2 separate regions of the Homo sapiens genome follow, and region 1 is linked to region 2. Evidence: fine-mapped expression QTL. Tissue or cell type: blood mononuclear cells. Region 2 holds a variant in brackets; the other region holds the start of a gene. All regions are shown on one strand. Distances are between the middles of the regions.

What was found. PIP is the estimated chance that this variant, and not a neighbour inherited with it, causes the effect.
Region 1: PLEKHA6 starts here. The variant in region 2 is fine-mapped to the expression of PLEKHA6 in blood mononuclear cells (TOPMed, PIP 0.97).

What each region holds. Positions count from the first base shown.
Region 1 is chr1:204,355,113-204,363,119 of GRCh38, forward strand. It overlaps PLEKHA6 (pleckstrin homology domain containing A6), which reads right to left and starts at 4,817. Exons shown (of 23, transcript NM_014935.5): 1 at 4,582-4,817. RefSeq lists enhancers at 2,100-3,027, 3,028-3,954, 4,070-4,705, 7,693-8,007.
Region 2 is chr1:204,282,026-204,290,032 of GRCh38, forward strand. All of the region lies in intron 1 of PLEKHA6 (pleckstrin homology domain containing A6), which reads right to left. Among named protein-coding and RNA genes, the nearest start is that of GOLT1A, 72 kb to the left of the region's middle. RefSeq lists a silencer at 690-893 and enhancers at 1,478-1,979, 1,980-2,479. The variant G/T (reference allele first, on the strand shown) is at 4,980.

The DNA of each region.
Region 1 (8,007 bases), 73 kb after region 2:
ACTTAGTCTTGAACAAGGAGACTTGGGAGGGCTTGGAGGGAGAGAGACGATTATACCTGTCTTCAGATATCTATGTTTCTCATGCAAATCAACAAGGTAATAATAACAAACACATTTATCACTTATTCTGCTCAGCAGGATTCTATGTGCTTGCATATGTAACCTCATTTATCTTCACAAGAAGCTTATGAGATAGGTAGCATTATCTTCATTTTACAAATGGAGAAACTGAGGCACAGAGAAGTAAAGCCACTGTTAGCATCATATCACTGGTAAATGGTAGATTCCAGATTCAACCTGAGTTTGACCCCATAACTACGTTTTGTTTGTTTGTTTGTTTGTTTTGAGACAGAGTCTTGTTCTGTCACCCAGGCTGGAGTACAGTGGCACGATCTCGGCTCACTGCAACCTCCGCCTCCTGGGTTCAATGGATTCTCCTGCCTCAGCCTCCCAGGTACGTGGGATTACAGGAAGCCAGCACCACACTTAGCTAATTTTTATATTTTTAACAGAGATGGGGTTTCACCATGTTGACCAGGCTGGTCTCAAACTTCTGGCTTCAAGTAATCCACCCGCTTCGGCCTCCCAAAGTGCTGGGATTACAGGCATGAGCCACTATTCCTGGCCAACTGTGATCTTAATGACTCTGCACACACTGCCTTTTAAGAAAAGCCAAAGACTCGAACACACAAATATGTTTATTACATGGACATATTATATATTGCATTGTTATTAATATGGACAATGTCACATTTGATAAGTCTCTTTTTAAAAATTGTCTCACTCCCAGTCAAACAGATGGATCGAAGCAATAAATGAAAACCATGAAAAAGTTGTAATACTCAATGTTGATGCTCATGGCACACACACACACACACACACACACACAAAAAAAATCCATTCTCAGACACAGCTGCGAGGAATGTAAATTAGTGCTTTTGAACGAGGTATTTGGCAAAATATTTTAATAATGTAGCCATTTCACTTCTAGAAATGCAACCTAAGGGAAAAAAGTATTGATATGTGTGAAGATTCAGATATTTATATGTTCATTGTAGCCTTGTTTATAAAAGTAGAAAATTGGAAATACCTAGTTTAACATAGGGGCCAAATCAACAAATAAATTGAAAAGGTATATAATGAAATATGAGACAGCCACTTTAAAATGATGCTGTAAAGGCCAGGTGTGGTGGTTCACGCCTGTAATCCCAGCACTTTGGGAGGCCGACGTGGGTGGATCACTTGAGCACAGGAGTTCAAGACCAGCCTGGCCAACGTGGCCAACTCTATCAAAAATACATAAAATTAGCCAGGTATGGTGACATGCACCTGTAGACCCAGCCACTTGGGAGGCTGAGGTAGGAGGATCGCTTGAGCCTAGGAGGTTGAGACTGCAGTGAGCAGAGATTGTACCACAGCACTCCAGCCTGGACAACAGAACAAGGCCCTGTCTCAAATAATAATAATAATATTAATAATAATAATAATGCTGTTAAAGAATATTTAATAATATGAAAAAATGCTTTCTGTTTAAGTGACAATAATACACATCTGGGCCAAAATTTTAATGATATATATGTATTGTGATAATCTAGACATACACTCATGCATGAATTCATAAAAGTACAAGTATACCAAAATTAAAATTATATATCAAACCTATGGGTAATTCTTAACTTTGCTTTAGGTTTTTCTACATTTTTAAATGACAATGTATTACTTTTACACTCACAGAATAGTAATTCTTTTAATGTACACCCTTCATCACATTAATTCTATGCCTTGGAATTTATCCTAAGTCACCCAAAACACAGAAAGAGCCTTATGAACAAAAATGTTCCTCTTGTGCTATCTGTAAAAGGAAAATAAGGTAACAACCTAAATGTCCAATATAGAAATGATCATGTAAAATATATTACATCCACACACGGACTATTATATACTATTTTAATCAAAAGAAAACTATTTTTATGACCACGTAAAAGAGAGAGGTGACTTGTTCTGCACAGCTTCAAAGAATCAGAACCAGAGGGTGGAACTTAGAAGTCGGCAGATTTTGATTCAACATAGAAGAATGTTCCAGCCACAGAGGAAGCTGCCTTGTGAGGTAATGAGCTCCCTGTCACTGAAATTATCCAAGTGAGGCTGCTGCTTCTGTCAGGGAGGCTGAGGAAGGCTCATCTGGATGTGGAGGGAGTCTGGACTAGATAGTCTCTGAGGGGCGTCTGAAGGTTGTAGGTGCTGAGCAGGAGCCCCCTGAACAGACAGATGGTCAAGGGAAGGCTTCCACTCAGCCTACCCTCAACTTCTTTTCCTTCTGCTCCCAGTTACTCTAAATGTCTCCCAAAATATAGTCTTTTTTTCCTCTCTGAATGTGCTTTAAGTGTTTGGAGACTGGCCTGCTCAAGTCCCCTCATTAAGCCCTGGCTTCCTGAGCCCGTTCGCCTCACCCCAGAGCTCAGGGGAGTGCGAATCCTGCAGCTCTTTTGTGAGGCACAGCTCCAACCTTCCTCTGGGGGGCCCCATGGGTGCGCCAAGACCAGTGCCAATGACCTCATCAAATTCACAACAGGCAGTGAGGAAGACGATGAGGAAATTGGCTCGGAGAACGGAACCGCAGCCTGTTCAGCACCAGTTGACACCACGCTCCCATCTGCTGTTGCGGCTTCTTCACTCTGGCCTAGGCCAGTCCCCTGGGCCAAGAGAGCTCGCTCTATGAGCCCGAGGCTGCAGGCTGGGTCTGGGCGAGGTGGGGGCTCTGATGTCAGCCCGGGAGCCAAGGTGGCTGCCTCCCTCACTGACTGAGGGATCAGTAATTATTTCATTTACAAGCAGAAATAATCCAACTCAATAATCCAGGCAGACACATTCAAAGTAATTATCTGTGTAAGGCGTCCTGCACCATCACCTTCCTAGGAAGGAGGAAAAGAAGCCTAGCCCAGCAAAAAAAAAGCAGGTGGGGACCCCCATTGTCTGCAGCCTGTGTGCAGCAGCCTGCCAGGATTAATTACACACCAGTGCTAACACATTTATCACCTCGCCGCTGATTGGAAAACCAATGACTTTTAATAATTCATATCTGTGGCTCGGCACTCTGTGCCCTTGTGCAAAGACACAGAAACTCGCTTGTTTCCATAAGGAAAGCCCAGTGGCAGTGCCAGGAGGGGTGCCTTCAGCCCCTCCTGCCACCCCAACCTGGAGACAGGCCAGAGCCTAGCCGCTCCCACCTCCCCTCCACCAGCAGGGTCTGCTCATGTCCTGCTGAAGCTAAAATGCAGCTGCTCGGGGGTGAAAGCTGGCGACTGAACCGTCCTAGCCACAGGAGCCCTCCTCAGTTTCATACTCTTCCAGGGTGGCCTGGAAAACAGGATTTGGGAGATTTGTAGGGCAAGTGCCCGCAGTGCCCCCGCACCTGCCCAGACAGTGGGCTCAGGCAGATACCTGCCAGCCAGGACCCTGCCCCACCATGCAGGAGACCCTCAGCAGAGTGCACCACTCAAGTGATCAGATTGAGGGTAAAGGGTCTACAGGGCTTTGGGAAGAGCCTCCAATCCCTGAAGGCTGCAACCTCCTCTGACACCAGCTCTGAGCTCCAGCCTCCTCCCCACCACCTTCCACCCTCCTGCAGCTCTCCCTCCCCACCCCTGTGCCCCGGGGATGGCTCTCCCTCTATCCCGGTTCTCCATCTCTGCTCTCCCAGGCTCCACAGCCCCCTTCCCTGCCCTGGCTGGCCTGTTGTCTCAAAGAGCATTTCCCAGGAGCCTCTTCTCCCTTCTTCTCCCTTCTCCCCCACCCCCGCCACTTTCCTGTCTCGCCCCGCTTCCCTCCCCTTCCACTGTAGCCCTCCTTACCCTTCTCTGGCCAGTCCCCCAACTGTCCTCCTTTCCTCAGACTCCTCACACAATACCTCGAGGCTCTTAGCTGGCTGCAGCCTGGTCCCATCATTATAAATGCCATCCCCTCATTCCCTGCCCTCCTCTACCACATACCAGGCTCCAGCTCCTTCAAGAGCTCCCCACTAAATCTGAGACCCCCAGAGCTCAGATGCGTCCTAGGAATTGGAATCCAAGAGCCTCTGTCACCCTTCGACCCAACCTCTGACTCATAAGAATGATACACACCCTGACCCCTCCCCACGCTGAGGAAGGTGAGTCCCTGGGGCTGACCTGAGCCTGACCCTGGACCCCCTCCCTCTCTCCTTCCTGCTGGCAAGATTAAAGGGAGGGTGGGCTGGCCTCTCTGTGCTAGCTTGCGTGGGGGACCCCTGCTGGACCCTAGGAAGCTGCCAGCCCCAACGCTGCCTTCATCCAGGAGATGCAATTCAAATGTAATCAATTTAAACAGCATCAGCCCTGACAGGGGACTCTGGAGGTGGGGGTGGGGGCACAGGGAGGGCTATAATTAGCATTCTCAGCATCCATGATCCCCAAGTAAGGCTGCCAAGGATGAGAGATGGGGAAGCCAGTGCTCCGCAGTGCAAGCAGCCCAGGCTCACGCGGCAGACAGGCAGCTGCCAGCCCTGACCAGAGCCCAGCCTTCCTCCTCCCACCTCATCTATGTGATGCATGAAAACAGACTCACCGGCTTCTGAGGTGTGATCCCCGCGCTGGAAAGCTCTAACTCTGCGAGCCCCAAGGCACCCCTCCCCCCAGCTCAGGCCAGCTGGGGTCCTCCTCCCCCGCCCCTGGGGCCCCCTTCTGCAGAGCGGGGCTCCGGATCTAATCTGATCTAATCAGTCATCTCTCCGGCTGGCAGGTCCCTGGCGCAGGGAGAGGATGCTGTTGTGGTTACTGCAGGATCCAGCATCTTTCCCAGGCAGAGGCAGCTGGGCATGCTCCATCGGCTCCCCCGGGGATTTCAGGGCCACGTGACTCTCCCTCCCCAAGCTGTCACTTAGGATCAGGAGTAAATAGTCCCCGAAAAGGTTTAACTCCATCCACACCAGCGACAAGCTGCTAACCATCCACGCAGCCTGCCTGCCCGGGAGAGGATGGGGTGGCTCAGCACAGCCTCCTGGGCCTTCCACCACCAGGAGAAGGCTGCCCCCCAAAGGGGAGCAGGGCCACCGTCTGGGTAAGCTGCATTTTTAGAGTCCCCCACAAGAGACTGCAGGGAGCCAGAAACTGCCCAGGGTCTTAGAATCATGTGTGGGGCCTCACCCAGCCAGCCTGGTGATCACCTTTCACCTCTGTGGCTGTCTACTCCAGAGAGGGGCACGTCTCTAGGTGTCAAGAGGGCTTGGCTGGGGCCCTGGGGCCTCCCCATCCCCCGCCCCCCCCCCAATATGGTGAATTTAGAGAAATAACATTTGGAGAGGGTTGGGGGCCACTATGAGATGCCAGGATGAGTGGGGTGTGAGTGGGTTGTGGAGCCACTGCCCCCACACCAACCAGCCAGGCTCCTCCCAGGCCCTGGGAGGGAAGTCTGTGCTCCTGTTCCTTCCGTTGCACATTCCTTTACAGATAAGGGCTTCAGTTGGTAAAAATGATATAGGTACTCAGATCACACTAAGACAGACCCACTTGTATTGGAGTCGAGAGGCTTAATTTTTTAATCAAGTTGTTCTAATAATAAACAAAAAATGCAATTATCAGGTGAGTGGGGCCTTGCAGAAACCCTTTCTCTAGCTCCTGCCCAAATCGGTCTTGATAACCCTGAGCAAGGATGCTAGCCAAGCTACGGGGTACCTGGGTTCTGTATTATTCAGGATCAGAGGCAGAAGGAAGGACTTCAGACAATAGGGTCGTAGCTCTGTTTCTGCTTAGACAAAGATTGCTTTCTGCCTCAGTTTCCCTTTATCCACATCTCTCTCAGTTTTCCTCTATCCACGGATTCTCTGTGACAATGGGCAAGTGTAATAAAAACACTGATTTCATAAACAGGATCAGAAAGATGGAAAAAACCAAAAGATTCCCACCTCAACCTCCAGGCAGGCTCGCTGGTCTCAGTCCCATCTGCCCCTTAAACCTGGAAACTGGGGACTGAACCAGATGAGCTTCTGGAGTCACTTCTGAATAGAGAAATATGTCAAGAAGCAGGAGCTAGAGAAAGGGTGTCTGCAAGGCCCCACTCACCTGGTGATTGCATTTTTTGTTTATTATTAGAACAACTTGATCAAAAAATTAAGCCTCTTGACTCCAATACAAGTGGGTCTCTCTTAGTGTGATCTGAGTACATATATCATTTTTACCAACTGAAGCCCTTATCTGTAAAGGAATGTGCAACGGAAGGAACAGGAGCACAGACTTCCCTCCCAGGGCCTGGGAGGAACCTGGCTGGTTGGTGTGAAGGCTGTGGCTCCACACCCCACTCACACACACCACAGCATTGGAGGAAGACAGGGACCTAGAGAGCTACTGAAGGGACTGTCTTTCCCACCCCAGGGCAGGCCAGGCTGGAGCCAGGAATCTGGGGTTAGGGCAGCAGGCGCAGCTCAGCAGCACTCTTGGGGAGGGGGACTCTTGGTCACCTCCCACTGTTCCCCTGCCCAGCTGAGATGTCAGGCCAGCCCTGCATTGGCTATAGGAAAGCTGCTCTGCTGAAGGGGCAGACAAGTTGTGGATGAGGGCCCAGTGCCAGGCAGGACCGATCAAGCCCAACTCACCTGCCCTGGCTCTCCAGGACTTGGCAAGGCTGCCAGGTGCAGGCAGGGGGAGAGTCTGCTTTCAGTCAGCCAAGATGAGGGGCTCTTGGGGGTCTCTGACCCTGCGGAGCCAGTGGAGGAAAGGAGTGGAGGCAAGAGATTACAGCATCCCAGAGGGAGGCCGGGGAGGGGGACAGAGACCCCAGCCCAAGCCCCCACAATCCTCAGGCAGCTGGAAAAGGCAGGCGACCAACAGATGGGCCTGCTGGGCGGGTTTCCTCTCTGGCAGGCAGAGGGCAAGGGCCGCAGACGAGTCCCACGGATCCTTCGAGAAGCCTGAGCCAGACATGTGAATGTTTCTGGGGGATCTGAGTAGCTTCAGGGGCATGAGAAGCCAAAGGGAGGGTCGGTGTGGGGTGCATGCCTTTAGCTGGGGGACCAAGGCGGAAGAGATGTGGTAGCATGAAGATCTTAGAGCTACAGCAAGGACAGGTGAGGCGGATGGACCAGAGATAATAAATTCCCTTTGCCAAATCTAAGTTCTTGCTCTGCGAGCCCAGAAGAGGAGAAGCAAGCCTCACCTAAACAACTCCAATGGGGAAGGCGTGAGGTGGCGTGAGGGAGGGAGGATTCCACAGAAAGCACCTCTGCGATCCCGTCTCTCCTCTGCTCTACAATCACTGGTCCCCATTGCTCAGAGGATCAAGTCCAAGCTTCCCAGGCACCTACTCATGGTCTCCAAACACACGGGTCCTCCCCACCTTTCTGGTGCCATCCCCACTCCCTACCATACAGTCTTGGTGGCCACTAACTTGACTGGCTCACTGCCCATTCAGTGGAACTGCATCCACATGGGTCTCTCTTCCTCGCAGAACATGCCAACTAGGGGCAGCAAAGGGAGCTCCGTGGGATGAACTAGCTCACTGCAGCCTCCACCTCTACCTGGGCTTTAGCAATCCTCCCTCCTCAGCCTCCCAAGTAGCTGGTACTGCAGGTACACACCACCACATGCAGCTAATTTTTTAGTTTGTTTTACAGACAGAGTCTTGCTATGTTGCCCAGATTGGTCTCCATCTCCCAGGCTCAAGCAATCCTCCTGCCTCAGCCTACTGAGTTGCTGGGACTTACAGGTGTGAGCCACCATGCCTGGCTAACGATAACCTGTGTGACTTGGAAGCCCAGCTCCATCCCTGAGTAACTCACTGACTGAACAAATTACTTGACTATCCAGCCTGTTTTCCTCACCTGCAAATGGGCTTCTTTGAAGCCCAGCACATTCACTACCTTTTCTCCTCGGCCGCCTCCTTCTTTACTGTTCTGGGGTGTTATCTGCCTTTCTAAGCCTAGAGCTAGTGGGGTCACTGTACCAGAACTGCTGCCCCAGCACTCCTGTGCTCTGTCCTGTCTGCCTTCTGGAGACAACA
Region 2 (8,007 bases):
TCAGGGGGCCAGGTCCAGGTTTCTTCCCTTCCAGCTCAGGTGCTGTCCTTCCCCCATTTTCTCACTGTAGTGTCTCCCAGCCCCTGCTCTGGGCCTGGGTGGTCCCTTATTCCTATGAGAGGAGATAGGAAGGCCTAAGATGGCAGACTGAGGGCAGGAGGACAAGGTGTACTTCAGTCAGGGTAACGGGTTCAAGCTCATGTGTGTGCACGCACGTGTGTGTGCATGAGAGAAAACATGGATACTATACAGGGGAACTTCATCCTGACCTCCCACCCTAGCTTGGTTCATCTTTAAACTGGTTGTTTTACTTTAGGGAATTCCATCTGTCTGCTGAAAAATGAAGACAACCAGAGTAGATAGCATAACTCTGCCAGTGATTCAAATACTGAAGCTCTTCCATGTTGGTGGGTGAAAAGCTGCTCCCCCAAGTCCCTCGAGTGTCCCTGCCCCATCTCTGGGCCAGGGTCTGAGACCTCCTCACATCTCCATGACCCAGAGACAAAAGAGTTAATGCCTGGCACCACAGGGCCCTCCAAGACTCCAGGCCAGCATCCTTTCTGGTTGATGAATTATTGAATATCATTCCCGGGTACAGCCAGTCCTTAACTGTCTCAACACTGAAGTGTCTTCCAATTGTGGGGAACTGCGATTCTACCACCCAGAAGCTGCCATGGGCAGGCTGGGAGACACTTTCTCCTTCACCCTGACCCAAATTGGAGAACTGGGGCAATCCAGCTCCCTGGAGCTCCTCCTTGTGCTGTGTGCTCTTGTTCCCTTCTAAAGAGAGGGGGAATTCAAAGGAGAACCAGCTGCCTACAGCTCTGGGTTTTCCTCCTCTCAGCCTTTCCTCAGTAGCTAAGCCAGACAGAAGCAGAGAAAAAAGGCCCCAGCCCCCTCGCCTCCAAGTTGCCTTCTCCTGACAGCCAGCAATGTGGAACGGATCCCAAGGGGTAACAGGGCAGGGCAATAATTAATTATGCCCCCCCACCGCCCCGCCGCCTTCCAGCTCTGAGTTGAATCTCAAACCCCTGCCCTTCAGTGGCTGAGGCAGCCCAGCTGTCCGCCGCCGGGTCTATGGAAGGTCATTGAAACCATGTCTCTGCATCCCTAACTCAGCAGATCTGCTTCTGGTGTCCTACGGAGAGCAGCGACCCCACCCTGCCCCACCCAACGAAAGGAATTTTACAAAGTGGGTGTTTGGAGAGTTATGAAGCTGGCTGATCTCTCTCCTTCCCCATCCTCAAAAGCTACCAGTGCCTTCTTGGTTCCCAATCCAGCAATTTGAGAATCAAGCTGTCTGGTATCTTAGTTTTCTCATTTTAACAGTAAAACAATGGTATTGAGTGATGCCTTGTTGAGCAGACAACACAAATCTCCCACTGGACCAGAGAGCAGAGGAAGAAAGGTTATGATGCTCTGAAGGCATGTGGAATGAAGAGAAAAATAAAACGCATGCAATCTCTGGTCCTTACACTGGGAGGGAGGCAAGGAAGGCCCATTTTAGAATCAGGGAAGCTGAGGTGCATTGTCCCAGCTATAGTGACAGGAGAGGTCAGAAAAATTTGAGTCTTGGGCTCCCTTCTTTCTGTTCCTGCGATGCACCCAATCTGAGCTCCCTGCCCCTAGGAAAGCAGGAGAGAGCTTCATGGTTCAGGGGGAGATGCCAGCTTTTCAAGGTCTGCTCCAAGAACACAGTAATGAAAGCCACAAACTCTTTCACTGGTAATATCTGTGGGCTACAGGTCTGGGGACTGTGTGTGATGTGGGCTGGGGGCTACCCACAAACTTTAGTCTGACAACAGCTGCCTGGATGTAGGGGCATGGAAGGGCAGCCACACAAACACTGTCCACAGCCTGGCCTTTATTGCTGTGCCCCTGCCCAGCACCTCACACACAGGGGAACTGAATAACTGTTTGAGTTTGATGGAGCAGCTGTAGGGCAGGCCAGCAGGCTCACCACTGCCTGGAGGAGGGGGCACGTGCTGTTCCAGTTGGGATGCTGAATAGCGGCTGAAGGAGACAGGAGCTCAGCCTCAAATCCCTCTCGCCGGGATCAGTGTGCACAGTGCATCTGCTTCATGCCCCCTCCTGTCCCTCCCCTCCCTACTGGCCAGCCAGACTCTGATAAGAGTCTACAAAGCAGAAGCTTTGCCCTGGGAAGAGGAAAGCAGTAAACCAGCCAGAGCTGGAGAGCAGGAGCCTCCTGGCTGGAGGGTAGCACAGCAAGGGTTGAGGGGCAACAGCAGGCTCTAATGTAGTGCTGCTCCTCACCTGCCCAGGGAGACCCATTCTGCCTCCGGCCCCCAAGGAGGGCTCAGCTGATGTTCTCTCTCAGACTGGGAGTAATAGGGTAAGCTGGAGCCAGGTGGATTGTGGGAAATTATGAACACCTCCTTTTGCCAGGAGCAAGGAATCTGGAACTTCCCCTGTACTTGGGGAGCTTGCCAAGGACTCTGAGGGCAAAGCGATATCCCTGCACTGCTGCCTGCTGGTGGGGGATCCAAAGGGAGCCTAGGAACAAGGGCCACCCAAGGAACCAGCCAGAAAATGACTGTGCCTAGGAGAGCACTTGCTGCAGACTGAGACGATCCTTTGTGAGCTCCCCTGACGCCCCCGAGAGGAAGAGGGAGATCTGGAAAGGGACTGGAGAGTTGTGAAAAAAGCTGGCACATGATGGCAAGGAATGGACAGCGTGTGGATTGTCCTTAAGGAAAAGGGTAAGGCCGGTGGTCTCAGAGTCAGGAGTCTTGGTAACTGACCACTACTGAGTCACTGTCCCTTTCTGGGTCTCAGTTTCCCCACCTGCAACATGTAACGATACTGGAGTTGCTGGGAGGACTAAATATTTAAAACCTCTAGAAGAATGCCTGGCACATTGAGTTGTTTAGTAGTGGCTAATGTTATAATCATTAATAAAATAAGGGAATACAATAAATAGCACTATCCTAAATTTGCACCAAGTTGATAGCCACTAGCCGTATTCTATCTTGAATAATTAAAATTAAATAAAATTAAAATTTCAGTTCCTAGTTACACTAGCCACATTTCACTGTGTCTCAAGAGCCACAGTAGCTAGTGGTTACCATACGGGACAGAATAGTCACAGGACATTCCATCATTGTAGAACATTCTATTGGACAGCACTAGGCTAGATGTTCTCTAAGCCACCTTCCAGTTCTAATAGTTTTGAATTCTATGAAATGCAATTCTAAGCCAGTGTATCCTTCCACCAGCTGATGAGCTCAGTGTCTTCAGTAAATACAAGTTCCCTCATAGACCTAAACTAAGCTAAAAAGAAAGGAAAATCTGCTGTCAACAACAAAAAGTTAAAAATCAGAAATGATATACTCCAAAGTTCACTCAGAATTAATCTGGACAATCCATTGTTTTCGTTTTTTTGGGTTTTTTGTTGTTTTTGTTGTTGTTGTTGGTTTTTTTTTGGTTGTTTTTGTTTTTGTTTTTTTTGAGACACGTTCTTGTTCTGTATCCCAGGCTGGAGTTCAGTAGTGCGATTTTGGCTCACCGCAGGCTCCGCTCCCTGAGCTCAAGCAATTCTCCCACCTCAGCCTCCCCAGTAGCTGGAACGTCAGGCACGGGCCACCACGCTTGGCTAATTTGTTGTATTTTTAGTAGAGACACGGTCTCGCCGTGTTGGCCAGGCTCATTATTTTTAAATCACATGCATTAAGACTCCTCTGCACAGTTTGAAAGTATCATTACTAACAGCACTGGCCTGGTAGGAAACACTGGAAAAGGTCATCCAGCAGCTTAAGGAGGCTGGGAGAGAAGAGTTGGAGAAGGAAGAAGAGTTGGGGAGGAGGCTGGAGACACAGAGGACCTGTTCCTCCCTCCTGCTTTCCTTTTCCTTCCTGGATTGGCCAACCTCTAGCTGACGCTTGGGGGAGGAGGAGGAAAGGGAGGTCTTCTGTGGGGCCATTTGGTCCAGAGCAGGAGAAGCTGGCATGGAGGAGGACAGGGTAGAGGAAGTACCACCAAGGACAGCAGGCTTAGGATTCTTCCTTCCCTGCACCTCCCCTTCCCCACCCAGCACTCATCCAGACCTGGATCCTATGGAAATCACAGGTAAACAACCTGTTGCTAAGCAGACATCACAAGAAGCAGGTGCCAGAGAGCATCCACTGATAACCGGGGCTTACAGAGGGGAGGGAAGACAATCTCAGAGGAACGGAAGAGGTGCTCCTAGGCCTAGACCTAGCCTAGAGAACCTGCTGGCTATAGCCCAGATAAGGAAAAGAGAGGGCCTGAGAAGGAAGGCAGGGAGGCAGTCAGACAAGGGACACTGCTGTTCCCACCCCTGTCCTGCCACGCAGCAGCCGTGAAGAAAGACTGGGCATGGAGGCTGTGACAAGGAGGAATAGAGTACTCTGGGAGGGGAACAGAGAGGAGGAAAGGGAAAGGGATGCAGCACAGGTGCCAGCCGGGACAGAAGCCGGCCTCCATAAGTGACACCTGAGTAACAGGTGAGCCTGCCTACACCTGTTGGAGTATATGAGCAACTATTCTGCACCTGCAACTTCTGGCTGGGCCAGGAAATAAGACCAGCTGCACAATTTGCGGGCCCCTTGTGCAAAACTTAAGGATTTCAAGACAGCAATAGCAGAGCATTAAACCAAGCATGTGGGGCAACTGCACAGTTTGCATCCCCCATGAAGCCCCCCTGCCCTGCCTGGAAATAACAATCCCAGTATACTTCTCCTGGGAGTGTAGGGATGGAGGTTGGCTAGTCACATTTGTGGCTGACTCTCAATATGAGGCAGAACACAACAAGTATCCCCGTTCCTCTCCTATACTCTACTTCCCCTTCTTTCTTGGCCTCAAATGCCCAGAAACTTGGCTGCTTCTGCTCTCGCCCTGCTGGGTCTAGTGGCTGGCACCTTCCCCCTATTGTGCCTGGTTTCTGTTTGCCCATGGGCAGCCCAGCCAGAGGAAGCACCACAGCTGAAAGCCACAAGGGG[G/T]TTGGGTTTACCTTATCGCTCGAATCTGCTTTCTAAACTGGCACAGGGAGCACCCTGTTCCCACCTAATAGGCTCTCCAGAGCCCCGAGTTCCTCCCTAGGTTCAACCTAGCATCACTATGTCATCGAATCTCTTTCCTCCCAAGAAAGAGGCAAGGGAACAAAAGGGCTCCTAGCTGGGGGCGGGAGGAGAGTAAAGTAAGCACTTCCTTTTTGGTGACAGTCTCCCTCTTTTTTTTTTTTTTTAAATCACGTGGGCATTCATGAGTACACACACAGAGAGATAGCATCAGCTGAGAAAAGCCAGTGCGTCCACCTCCTCCTCCAAGCCAAGGAATTCTTGTCCACACCCCCTCCACAAAACTGTCATTAGAAGGTGCCAGGGTCAAAGAGCACAAATGTTTTGGAGGTTGAAGGGATGAGGGACCTGAAGGGGAAGTTGAGGGAATGGGGGCAACAGAAATCTAAATGCAAAAGGTTGGTTCTCTTTCTCCCTGGATTTCAGTTTTGTTCTCAACTGACAACCTTGTCTTCTTAATGAGTGAAGAGTTCTCCCCGCAACTCTCTGCACCCACCCCCGCCAGGTTCTGTCTTACCCTACATCTCACCACACCTGACTCTGCTAAGTAAAAGGATAAAACCAGGAGCACAGCCATGCCAGTCTCCTGTGGCTCTGTCCCCTCCACCTTCCTCCCGTGGCCCCATCCAGGAAATCGGCCCACAAGAGAGGCCGACGCTGCTTCTGACCAGAGCTACCGAGCGCCTCTCTGGAGACAATGGCTCAGAGAGAAGGAGGAAGACTAGCAGCTCCAGCTTTGTGCTCAGGGTGGCCACACAAAACCATTGTCTTGACATCAGGACAGACAATGGTTTGTATCTCTGGCTTCTGCGCTGAGCAGTTCACTCCCTTGGACTAAGATAATTTTAAAGATTTCCTTCTAATAAATAGTAATGATACTGGAATCTGGCCTCAAGCTGAGAATTTGTATCTGGTTGTAACAAAAGCCCACTCTGGCTGATAGAATGGGTATATCTAGGCTTCCTTTTCTGTTCCAGAGCCACCCAGACAAACATAGACCAGACAGATAACCACTTACTCACCGGCTCTTCTTTGCTGTTCCCTCTGCTGCCTCTAGCCCTGACTCCTTTCACACTGAGGAGTAGGGAGAAGGTTTTCCTTTAATACTCACCAGGTCCCTGGTGGGTAGCAATCATTAACAGCCACACATGCTGGCTGGCCTTAACCCCTTCAGTGCTGGGTTGCCTCAGCCAGCCGGAGCTGGCTGATGGACAGCCCTGTCCCTTCTACTCTGCCCTGAGAAAGTAGCAACTCCCACCTTGATGCCATCCACCTGAGTAATGCTGCCGCCTCCCATGTGGAGAAGGAGAGCCCTCTAGTCCCACCCAGGCCGCCCCGCCTGATTGGAGCACACTTGCAACCTGAGGCGTTTGGCTCTGGCACGATGCCCAATTGGATGAGCCCACATTATGAAATATTTGCCTGGCGGGCCAATAGAGGAACTGGGATCTGGGGGAGGGATGATATTGTTATTTATTCCTGGAGGAAGGAGAGCAGACAAAGATAGTCACAGCATCCCTAGCCCTGGGATGGGAAGCAGTGGGAAGGTGGTCTTCAGATCCATGGAACTGCCTCTAACTGCTCTGTCCAGGTAGAGTGAACTAATTCTTGAAGCTTTCTAAGCAATTTGAGCCTGGCTGTTCAGCTAGAGGGTTTGTTTTTATTTTTATTTTTTTACCTTAATGTCTCTCTGCGCCACTCAGAAGTTTGGAGAGCAGCACTAGGAATTGTAATAGAGATTAAGAGGAGAAACACATTGTCAGTCAAGGAACTGCTTCATATCTGCATAAACTATGCAACCACAGTTATTGTTTATAGTTCAAAGTTGCAGAAATTATTTTAGTGTCTTTGGAGGATACAGACGGAAGGTGAGCAAGAACAAGAAGAGATAAATTCCCTCTTTATCCTTTAAAAATAGGCAACTGATTTGGGGGAAATCTAAAAGTATCTACAAGCAGGACACATGCAAATCTATGCAGATGTGTGCAAATGAGCAGCGCCGGGCTTGTGAGAGTAAGTCCTTGCCAGGATTTTCCTCATTTGAGGAAGAAATTAGGTAGTCTCTAAACCCCATATCAGAGCATCTCACTAGAGCATAAGGAACTCAATAAGCCTATATTTATTGAGCATTTACTCCATATGAAACAGAGTGCCTTTAAGTACAGCCCAGTAGGATTTTTCTTTTTTACCATGATCATAAATGGGATATACAGAGAATACAAGTTCCCTCTCCCTACACACCCACAATTAATAGCCCCTTCTCCTTTCAGGCCCCAGAGGAGTGATTTGGCTACTCCTCCTCTTGCCAGCCCGGATTTAGTAGCTGGCACCTCCTCCTTATCACCCCTGGTTCCTGTTTGCCTATCAGTAGCCCAGCCACTGTGGCTCAGGACCCTGCTTTAAACCTGCCAGGGGGCCTTATCTTATCTCCTGGGCTGCCTTCCTAGCAGCCCGCGGGGTGGCTGGCTGGCCGGGTTCCTTAAAGGGGCTGCACTGCATTCCCACTTGCTCCATTCACCCTCAAGAGTACCCCAGAGATCTGGAGGTGTTCTACTTGTGTAGGGTCAGAATTTACTATACCACCCTTCCTTCCCATCCTTTACAGTCACAGCTACTGTAGAGCTGCTACTGAAATGATCTATGACTTAGAACAGAAAGATGCTCATGCTTTTAGAGCCATTGTAAATGTTTATCATGTCATGCAAATGCCCTGCCCCTTGATATTTTCAGGTTCCTGCTCTTTTAAATTCAATTTTCAAAGCAAGGGAGGAGAGGCTCAGGATACAAAGTCTATATAGAAAAATCAGTTGTATTTCTATATACTGGCAACAAACAATGAAAAAAGGAAATTTTAAAACACCATTTATAATAGCATAAAATTAAGGGATACTTTTGACAAGGGATGTGCAAGACCTATACACTGAAAACTATAAAACATTGCTGAAAGAAG